3 separate regions of the Homo sapiens genome follow, and regions 1 and 2 are each reported to be linked to region 3. Evidence: microRNA targets listed by miRTarBase, many of them from high-throughput screens and not tested one by one. Region 3 holds a microRNA gene; each other region holds the end of a gene's coding sequence.
The links. The annotated mature microRNA hsa-miR-5693 reads GCAGUGGCUCUGAAAUGAACUC and lies in region 3 at 2,182-2,203, opposite strand. An mRNA with a match to its seed (bases 2 to 7 or 8) in the 3' UTR can be bound and repressed. Matches are read on the target gene's strand: a 7mer-m8 pairs with bases 2 to 8, a 7mer-A1 pairs with bases 2 to 7 and ends in A, and an 8mer does both.

Region 1 (3,157 bases), not on the chromosome of region 3:
AGTCTGATGTCTGAGATGTCTGAATCAGTCCTGTGGCTGATCTAGACCCCCTACAGAGCCACACTTGTTCTCCCTTGGTGACAGCTTTTTCCCTTCTCAGGGTTACTTCGTGACAAACTGGGCTCCTATGATGTGGCATTCTACCTCGCTGGAGTCCCTCCCCTTATTGGAGGTGCTGTGCTTTGTTTTATCCCGTGGATCCATAGTAAGAAGCAAAGAGAGATCAGTAAAACCACTGGAAAAGAAAAGATGGAGAAAATGTTGGAAAACCAGAACTCTCTGCTGTCAAGTTCATCTGGAATGTTCAAGAAAGAATCTGACTCTATTATTTAATATCTTACATACCTCCACCAGACTGGACTTGCTTTTTGAATTTTAAGCAAGTTTCCTTTCCTTTTATACAAATTGCAAATTTCATATTTTTTTAATCACATCCTAGGAATAGCACAATAATTGGGAAATAGAACCCTTATCACTAGAAGAACCATTTTCTGCCACTAAATATCTCTGATGTTTCCATGAGTCTGAGGGCAGAGACTCTGGTATATGAAAACGTCTGAAAGTCACATATTGTGAAAATTTGAAGCTATCTCAGTAAAAAGCAGCTTTGGAAACTGTGAATGATCTTTAGCTTGTACAAATGTTTAAAAATACCTCAGGCTATACTGAAAGGGTTGCAGTTTGGTTAGGAGTGGAAATATTTTGTTTGTTAATGATGTCTTCAGTTCTGGTACCTCTGTTTTACTTTCTTATGCTCTTTGGAAACTTTTTGCAAAATTTAAGCCTGGGTTCTAGATAATACCAGATCTACCTAAACCTCAAGTCTATGTTAAAGTTGCTTTCCTGCTGTTAAATAAGCTATGATATTAAGATATTCTGACTTGCTCCAGTGTCAAGGGACCTTCTGGGAGCAGGTGCTAACATAGTGTTCAGAATCAATATGTGAGATGAAAAGGATCCCCTCCAGGAGGATCCTGAGCTGTTCAGAAATCATTTAAGTTTACAGCGTTGTTCCCTTTGCGTTTGCAGTGCGTTTTACTCAAGTAGCCAGAAACACCCCACGTTTCTGAATTTGTTTAAACTGTAACAATAAAGTAAAATAGAATGCATGAAAGATATTCTGGCGATTGTAACTTAGAATTTTTCTGACTTCTGGATTTGTTGGCACTAGAACCTGATATTTAAAGTCTTACTGAGCAGCTATCAAGTGGCAGTTACAGGCACAAATTGGTGGAGGCTGGAGGATGGGGAGGGGAGCAAAACCCTTTATATTTGTGAAGAAAATATCTGTAGCTGATAGAAATAATTGCTTAAATTGGTTTATGAAATTAATGAGTCTGAAAAGGTTAAAAGCACTTATAAAAAGAACCAAGTCCTACATTTCCAGAACTTTCTGGCAAAAATTTGCACTCATATTATTTATCCTATGAACATTCCCATTGTTTTTTTTTGCTATTTATATACAGATTATCATAAGAAAGCTCTCAGTTTGAGGACCCAAAATAAAACCAAAGTCATGCCATGACCCATACTCATTTACAAAAACAAGAACACTTTCCTCTATCCCTAAAATTATGCTTTAGTACTTGAGGCCTTTAAAAGTTAGTGCTTTTGATTGTGAAGACATTCAGCAACTTACTTTGTCATACATGCAGTTGCACCTTACCACTTCTAATAGTGTCATATTTCATATTCAGGGGACTTAGATAATTTGCCTGTGGATGGTTCTTTTGCAGGAAAAAAAATCTACATTTTGACCATACTACCCTTTCATGTCCTTATTATAAGCTTTTAGAAAATGATTTCATTCAGTCATGTCCAGTTATATAAAACGTTACTTTCTCATTTTTGAGAAGTTCAACAAAACATACTACTAAGACCAATCATCAAACCCACTATTATAAATGTTAATTTTGGCTGGGTAAGGTGGCTTGCGCCTATAATCCCAGCACTTTGGGAGGCTGAGGAGGGAAGATTGCTTGAGCCCAGGAGTTTGAGACCAGCCTGGGCAACATAGCAAGATCCTGTCTCTACTAAAAATAAAAAAAAAAATTAGGCCAAGCATAGTGGCTCATGCCTGTAATCCTAGCACTTTGGTAGTCCAAGGCAGGGGGATCACTTGAGCCCAGAAGTTCAAGACCAGCTTGGGTAACATAATGAGACCCTGTGTCTACAAAAAATTTAAAAATTAGCCAGGCATGATGGTGCCCACCTGTAGCCCCAGCTACTCAGAGGCTGAGGTAGTGGAAGGATTGCTTGAGCCTTGAGATGGAGGCTGCAGTGAGCTATGCCACTGTACTCTAGCCTGTTCAACTGAGCAGAACCCTGTCTGTAAAAGAAAATCAAAAACAAAAAATAAATGTTAAATTTTGTTTTAAGTTTTAGCACAGACTCCCCTCAAAACACCTTCTCCCCAATTTTACAGAAAGTAATTTAAAAATGAAAACTTTACTCTGTAAAGACCTCTACAGTGTTTTTCTTTTCAAAATTTGGCTGATTTTAGGAAAAAAGTGATCATCTGAAACTAAAAGAAATTGCTTGGTTAGTTTCCATATTAAAACAGCAGTGACAAGTATATATAACTTAGATCTCAGCATATGTGTTTGTATATTAAACTTCACATATGTAGTTTTCAGTTTAATGGAATGAATCAAACTGGATCTATAACACTGAAAAAGTTCTATTGTAATAGACTCATACGGAGAATACTCTGCTATAATAATATAAAATTAAGAAGAAAAAGTATAAACGTAAGATGCTAAATTCCATAAATGCATATTTAGTACTATGTTTTTTGTGGGAAAAGTTCTAAAAGTTTAAAATGCACAAAGAAAATGAAAAATACTAATATAAAAATTTGTGCTTTAATCTAGTCAAACTAAATCCTTTCTAATTTCTGAATGAAGTGTTACTGCTGCAATAAAGTGACCTGATAAGCCTAAATTTTTTGTGTTCAATCCAGACACTTTTCTGAGAGTCTGAAAAGAATACAGAGTCAGAACTCTGTTTTTATCTCCTCATCCTGTTTTTGATAAGACTCAGAAAATTCTCAAATTCGAAAGGTTCTGGCATTTGAGGCCAAAAAAAGCATGAAAGGGAGTAACATTCCTTTTTATAGATACTCTAGATTGGATACTATTGTAACAGATGGCCAAGA
Region 2 (3,157 bases), not on the chromosome of region 3:
AGTGCTGGGATTACAGATGTGAGCCACTGCACCCAGCCTCATTTTGTTTTTATATTAAAATGGAAGCCAATTTCATTATTTCAAAACTCCTTTGAATAGAGCCTTGTGTATAGAGTAGAATGTTAGTGGTAGTTGCCATTATGCAGGAGTCCCTTAGGCTTATCATTCTTTTAAGCCCAAGGAACCCCTAGATCTTTTATGAGTGGGTTTCAGCTCTCATATAGTACTTATAAAGGAACAGCTCCTCTTCCTATTTCCTTCTCCTACTTGAGCCTTCAGCCTATCCTTTGGCTGACACGTATAAGATTTTGGTTCCACCATTTCTGTTTTCCCTGTAAGTTAGAGATTCCTCTGTCACTGACTGATGAGTAGGTAACTACACAAACAATAGTTTGGCTTATAGACTCAGAATATTTGATTGCCAGAGTTAAAATGCCAGCCTTATGACATGGCTAAAGTGCTGTCCCAAGGCCACAGTGACATCTATCAGTCCGTGCATGTGTTTGCTTTGGAAGTAGATAGCCTTCATTCACCCCTGTAGTGCATTCTCCATCCTCCACTCTTAATACTTTTTACTATGAATTATTTTTTCTATAATTCAACTGTAACCTATTCTAGATTTGCTTTCAATCTTTTACAGTTACTAAACCAAGGAGATTTAACTGAAAGACGGACATGAGCGTGGGTGCTGACTCCTGGAAGAGCAACTCTATCTGATCTCAAAATGCGTATACTGGGAACAGGATGCCTTAGCCCACAACAGAACCAGAATGAATCTTTGAAGGCACAAGACTCTGCTTTTGCCACTCTTCCTCTTTCCTGGTATAGAAGATGGATGTAGGAGAGCTTCTTTTCTAACTACCATCTGATCAGACAAGGAATGAAGCAATGACTGTGGGCTGGGAAACTGTACCTACCTCTCTTCCCACTGCAAATTTCTGGGATAGACCAAAAGTGAATTTGATTATGTGTTGGCTGAAGTTCTTCATTCTGACTGTTGAGGGGAGGTTTTCCTTTGAAGAGTTTTCATCCCAGACTCAGCTGTCTTTTCACATGGATGAAATAATTCCTGCTACCAACAACAGAGCTTCACCAGGAAGTTGAGTTTTCAAGATGCCTTGTTGCTTTGAAGAAGGGAGTGATGTCAATTCTCTTGTTACATTCTCCCTTTAGCAACCTGAGTAAGAGACTCTCTGCCACTGGGCTGCAAAAAAATAAATTACTTGAATCTCCCCTTGGCCCAGGCTGAGGTACTATCTTGTCCTATACACTTCTACTTGGTCACTTTGCTTTCTTCGTTAATGGAACATACAGTAGCATGTTAAGAGGGATTTCATGTTTTTGTTTTTTTAAAGTTAAAAATTACATGATGCAGAGATTCAGGTTTTCCTTTAAATAAACAAAACAGCCCAGTCAGTTCTTTGGCTCTTGTTTTATACAAAATTTGTTTTCTTAGAGATTAAGAATTTAATCTTTCCCTTTAAAATAGTGTATTGATTTACCCTTAGGATTCCATACCAGTAAAACTGAACCGAGGAGTCTTAGGAAACAACAAGAACATCTTCATTTCTTAAGCCCAGGTGATAGTTACTCTGTCACCACCAAAAAAGACGCATCTGAGAAAATGGCAATAAAAACAGATACTTCTGAATTTTTCCACAAAGATAGTTTTTTTAAAAAAGCTTGAGAAAGGTGCTTTAGTTAGAGCAGGCACTCTTGCTATCAGTCATCCTGTCTCCACAGCTACTGAGAAAATATCCACTCATCATCATTATGATTTGAGATGGGGTCTTGCTCTGTCACCCAGGCTGGAGTGCAGTAGTGTAATCATAGCTCAATGTAACCTTGAACTCCTACGCTCAAGGCATCCTCCCACCTCAGCCTCCTGAATAGCTAGGACTATAGGCATGTACCACCAGTCCAGCTAACTTTTTGTGGTTTTTTTGGTAGAAATGAGGTCTGTGTTGCCCAGGCTGGTCTTGAACGCCTGGCTTCAAGCGATCCTCCTGCCTTGGCCCCTCAAAGTGCTGGGATTACAAGCATGAACCACTGCACCGAGCCAGAATATCCAATTATTATTGGTGAGAAGAAAATTATTCCAAAGTTCACCTACTAGTAGAAAATCTTGGTTGTCTGGGAAATTTTAAGTTTACTTAAAATGAACCTCATGCTCACATAAACACACAGGCACATTCTAAACAGATAACGGGAGAGAATTGTTTTAAATTCTTAATTTGTTAATGACATGCATAATCACATAGTACATAGACTGTGTTCATGGCAATTACTTGTATTCTTAGAATGCCAGTTTTTGCTTCATGCAGCCATTTATATTAGAGCAGTGGTTCTCAGCCAGGCACATTTTTGCCCCCTGGGGATATGCAATATCTGGAGACATTTTTGGTTGTCACAGCTGGGGAGAGGGGTACTACTGGCATCTAGCAGGTAGTGGCCAGGGATGCTACTAAACATTCTACAATGTACAGGACAGTTCCCTTCCCCAACCCTCAACAAAGAATTAGGTGGCCCAAAATATTAATAGCACTGAGGATAAGAAATCCTGTACTAGAAGTTGTAAGTTTTTCATCCCCCATGGGCTAGATCTGATATGCAGATGTATTTTATTTTGCCCATACAATATTTCTAAGTAATTTTTAAATTAGTTGATAGCATACAAATTTCTGGCTTGATGAAAATGTAGTTGATGTAGTAACTCTGAGCCTATATTCCAGCAGGATTTGATACTTTCCAGTGTCTACTATCTCCTACTGTCTACACCCACTCCATGGACGCATTTATGTTTCTGCACTAGCCCCTTATAGGCATTTGGGCCTGTGCTCTCTTTTCTGTACCTAATTCTCTAAGTGTGAGGCACAAAGCAGGAACCCTTAACTTTAGGCTACCATCCCTCCACCTGAGCCTCCCCACTTTGATTTCCTTGAACTATTCTCTGTTATCTGCTGCTCTTTTTTTTTCTCAGACAGAGTTTTGCTCTGCTGCCCAGGCTGGAGTGCTGTGGAGTGATCTCAGCTCATTACAACCTCTGCCTCTTGGGTTCAAGTGATTCTCCTGCCTCAGCTTCCCAAGTAGCTAGGATTACAGGCACGTGTCATCACGCCCAGCTAATTTTTGTATTTTTAGTAGAGGTGGAGTTTTG
Region 3 (3,157 bases):
GGAATGTCTAATAATTCCTAGGAAATGGCCCCAAACAGAACCAGGAGCAGCATCCCAACCTGTTCAGAAAAGAATAAAAAGCAGGGTCTTCAGCAACAGCTGGTTATAAACACATATCAATTTGCAATGAACATATTTTAATAAATACTCTACCAACCCAACTCCAGAGATGACTCACTGCCCCCACCTCCCCTGACTGGTCACCCAGGTGTCAGGACTTCTGAGTTCTCACTTTCCATTTCCCTCTCCACACCCTCATCCCCCAGCAGGGGTTGTCATTGTCGCCCCCATACCCAGCCCTACAGAGCCTCTGACTCTGGCCCTGTGAGGTTATCTTAAAGACTCTAGGTCTAGGATTTTTATAAAATGACCATATCGCTCAACAGTCCCCAAAAGTTGAGAGCAGCTCCTGGTGCCTTGGGTCCCTGACAGCACAAGGAGCTGAGACAGGGAATTAAATATTCTTAAGTAGACTAAAAAGATATTGTAAGATGAAGAGAGAGACCACCTTAAGCAAAAAGACCTGCATTTTCGCATTTTAACTCTGCACTCCTTGTCCGCACACACACTGGGTTCGGTTCAGTTTCAATGCACATTTAACCCATGGCCACCTTGCTTTCCTGCTTGCAGGTGGGGGCCCCAGTGAGGGCCCTGGTGGCTGGCCGTGGGAGCAAGTCAGTGCAGCATTTGCTCAGCTTGTGCTTGTGAGCACCATGTCCTTCCAAGGCACTTGGCGAAAGAGATTCTCCTCCACAGACACACAGATCCTGCCTTTCACCTGTGCCTATGGCCTCGTCCTTCAGGTCCCCATGATGCACCAAACGACCGAGGTCAACTACGGTGAGCTCTGCCCCTGCTGGTTTGTCTAAAGGGAGAGGAAGCCTGGGCCTGAGGGCAGGAGAGAGGAGGCCAGGTCCCTGCTCCTAAGGGATCGGGATGTGTTTCCGCAGGGTCCATCTGCTGGACTGGGCATGCATGGCGGAAGGAAAGACTAAGGTGCCCGGAGACTTTAGAGAGGAGTGTGGGACAGTGTGCTCTGACAGGACAGTGAGGACACAGATGTGGAAGAGAAACTCAGTTTCATGCCTGACATTTCCTTCTGCACTAGTAGAGTTTGGACCAAACTGCCACCCTGGCAGGCACAATAGGCCGGGATTGAATGGCTGCTCCTTTAAGATCGGGTACAGTAGTACCCTGTACCCTTATCCATGATTTTGCTTTTTTGAGGTTTCAGTTATCCGCATCAGAAAATATTAAATGGAAAATTTCACAAATAATTCTCAAGTTTTAAACTGCACGCCCTTCTGAATAGTGTGGTGAAATTTCCTGACGTCCTTCTCTGTTCCACCTGAGATATGAACCATCCCTTTGTCCAGCATCCCCAGGCTGTCTACAGTATGCCCGTTGGTCACTTAGTAGCCATCTCAGTCATCAGATCGAGAAAACATAGTATATGCAGGGCTCGTTACCATCCACAGGTTCAGGCCTCTACTGGGGTTCTTGGAGCATATCTGCCAAGGATAAGGGGGCACTACTCTATGTGGTTCTGCATGTGCCATCGTCCCCCCCCCCATACCCAGTCCTAGAGAACCTCTAACTCTGGTCCTGTGAGGGTATCTTAAAGACTCTAGGTCTAGGATTTTTATAAAATGACCATATCGCCCAACAGTCTTTGGCCTGAAACCGCCTCCTGAGGGTGAGGTGGATGCTCGGTTTTATTGTTTCCAGTCCTCTGAGCCAGCCTCTCTCAGGGTCCGACACTGGTTCATTCTCCTGGCTCCTGGGACAGAGCTGACCTCTGATCCACTGTACCCTCAGGTCAGTTCCAGGACACTGCAGGCCATCAGGTGGGGGTGCTGGAGCTTCCTTACCTGGGAAGTGCAGTGAGTCTGTTCCTGGTGCTGCCCCGTGACAAAGACACCCCCCTGAGCCACATCGAGCCACACCTCACAGCCAGCACCATCCACCTCTGGACCACCAGCCTGAGGAGAGCCAGGATGGATGTGTTCCTGCCCAGGTGAGCAGCTGAGTCCCCCTCACAGGTGCTGTGCAGCCAGCAGTCAGAAGAGCGTGGATTTGCACACAGGTGGTCTGCCTCCAGGGTCTGTGCTTAGCCACTGGGATGACTTGTTTAATATGTATCCCCAGAAGTTAGACCAAGAGGAAGTGACCCTAGAGTTTGAGTTCATTTCAGAGCCACTGCTGGCTAGCTCACAGCACAGACTGAAATGAACTAACTTCCCAGAGTCTTTCCAAGACAAGATATTCTGCCTTCACTGGGCTGGAATGGAGCCCCCCAGGACCCCCTGATCCAGCCCTAGGCTGGACCAGTTTTTGGAAAGGAAATGCTCGTGGTTCCCTTGTAGGAACGTTGCCCAAATCTTATCCCATCCTAAGAGTATACAACTGTCATTTTTCCAAAACCAAAGAGATAAGATGACTTACGTAATTGAGCAAGTACAGATAAAATTCTGATCAGACGCCAAATTAAGGCATAAAATTTTGACACTTTAAGTCTCTGTGCAGAAGGTTCTCATTCTTTCTAAATGGAGGTGAACTCTCCTTTAAGAAGACCCAATAGGTACAAATACAAATCAAAAAGTGAAGTGGTGGCATTCTATGTTGCTTTTTCAAAACAAAATCTATTAGCAAAACTCATAACTTTACAAAAAGACTCCTCTTAGGGCTTCTTTAAATGATGAGCTTCTGTGATGTATTTGAAATCAGAGTAAATTTATAACCATTTTTTGACCAGCATTAAGCAAGGAATGTTGTCCAGTAGCCACTAGATGCCTTGGCCTCTCTCCACTGCCTGGGCTTCCAGTAGGCAAAGGCAAAGTCCTTGGCAGTACTCCCTTGAGGAGTTAAAAGTAAATCTATGCACTAGAAGGAAAAAATACAAAGAGAGACCCAGTAAGTTAAGGGCCAAGGTCTAAAGTGAGATCTGGCATAACCCAGGGCAAAAGGTGCACTTAACTCTAAGGTAAAGTGTATCTCTCAAAACTAAATATTTGGACCCCAAACCAAAACCCAAATACTGGATATTTCAACAGATCTCTCAGGGAGGGAGCAGAAGCAACCCTAATCTTCCTATTATATTTGAGAGAAACTCAGCAAGGGAAGGAAGAGCAGCGTTCCGTGTCAAAAGTAGAGAGAA

Region 1: miRTarBase lists SLC16A10 as a target of hsa-miR-5693. Seed matches in the 3' UTR shown: 7mer-m8 at 2,290-2,296.
Region 2: miRTarBase lists ZNF410 as a target of hsa-miR-5693. Seed matches in the 3' UTR shown: 7mer-m8 at 1,196-1,202.

Annotation. Positions count from the first base shown.
Region 1 is chr6:111,221,903-111,225,059 of GRCh38, forward strand. SLC16A10 (solute carrier family 16 member 10) reads left to right here. Exons shown (of 6, transcript NM_018593.5): 6 at 101-3,157. The coding sequence ends at 333. Among named protein-coding and RNA genes, the nearest start is that of SLC60A2-DT, 36 kb to the right of the region's middle.
Region 2 is chr14:73,930,863-73,934,019 of GRCh38, forward strand. It overlaps ZNF410 (zinc finger protein 410), which reads left to right. Exons shown (of 12, transcript NM_021188.3): 12 at 641-1,659. The coding sequence ends at 679. It overlaps FAM161B (FAM161 centrosomal protein B), which reads right to left. Exons shown (of 9, transcript NM_152445.3): 9 at 1,414-3,157. Among named protein-coding and RNA genes, the nearest start is that of FAM161B, 18 kb to the right of the region's middle.
Region 3 is chr13:51,346,395-51,349,551 of GRCh38, forward strand. MIR5693 (microRNA 5693) reads right to left here and starts at 2,245; the gene lies at 2,173-2,245. SERPINE3 (serpin family E member 3) reads left to right here. Exons shown (of 10, transcript NM_001386375.1): 5 at 631-840; 6 at 1,819-2,017. It also overlaps a transcript of INTS6 not described here.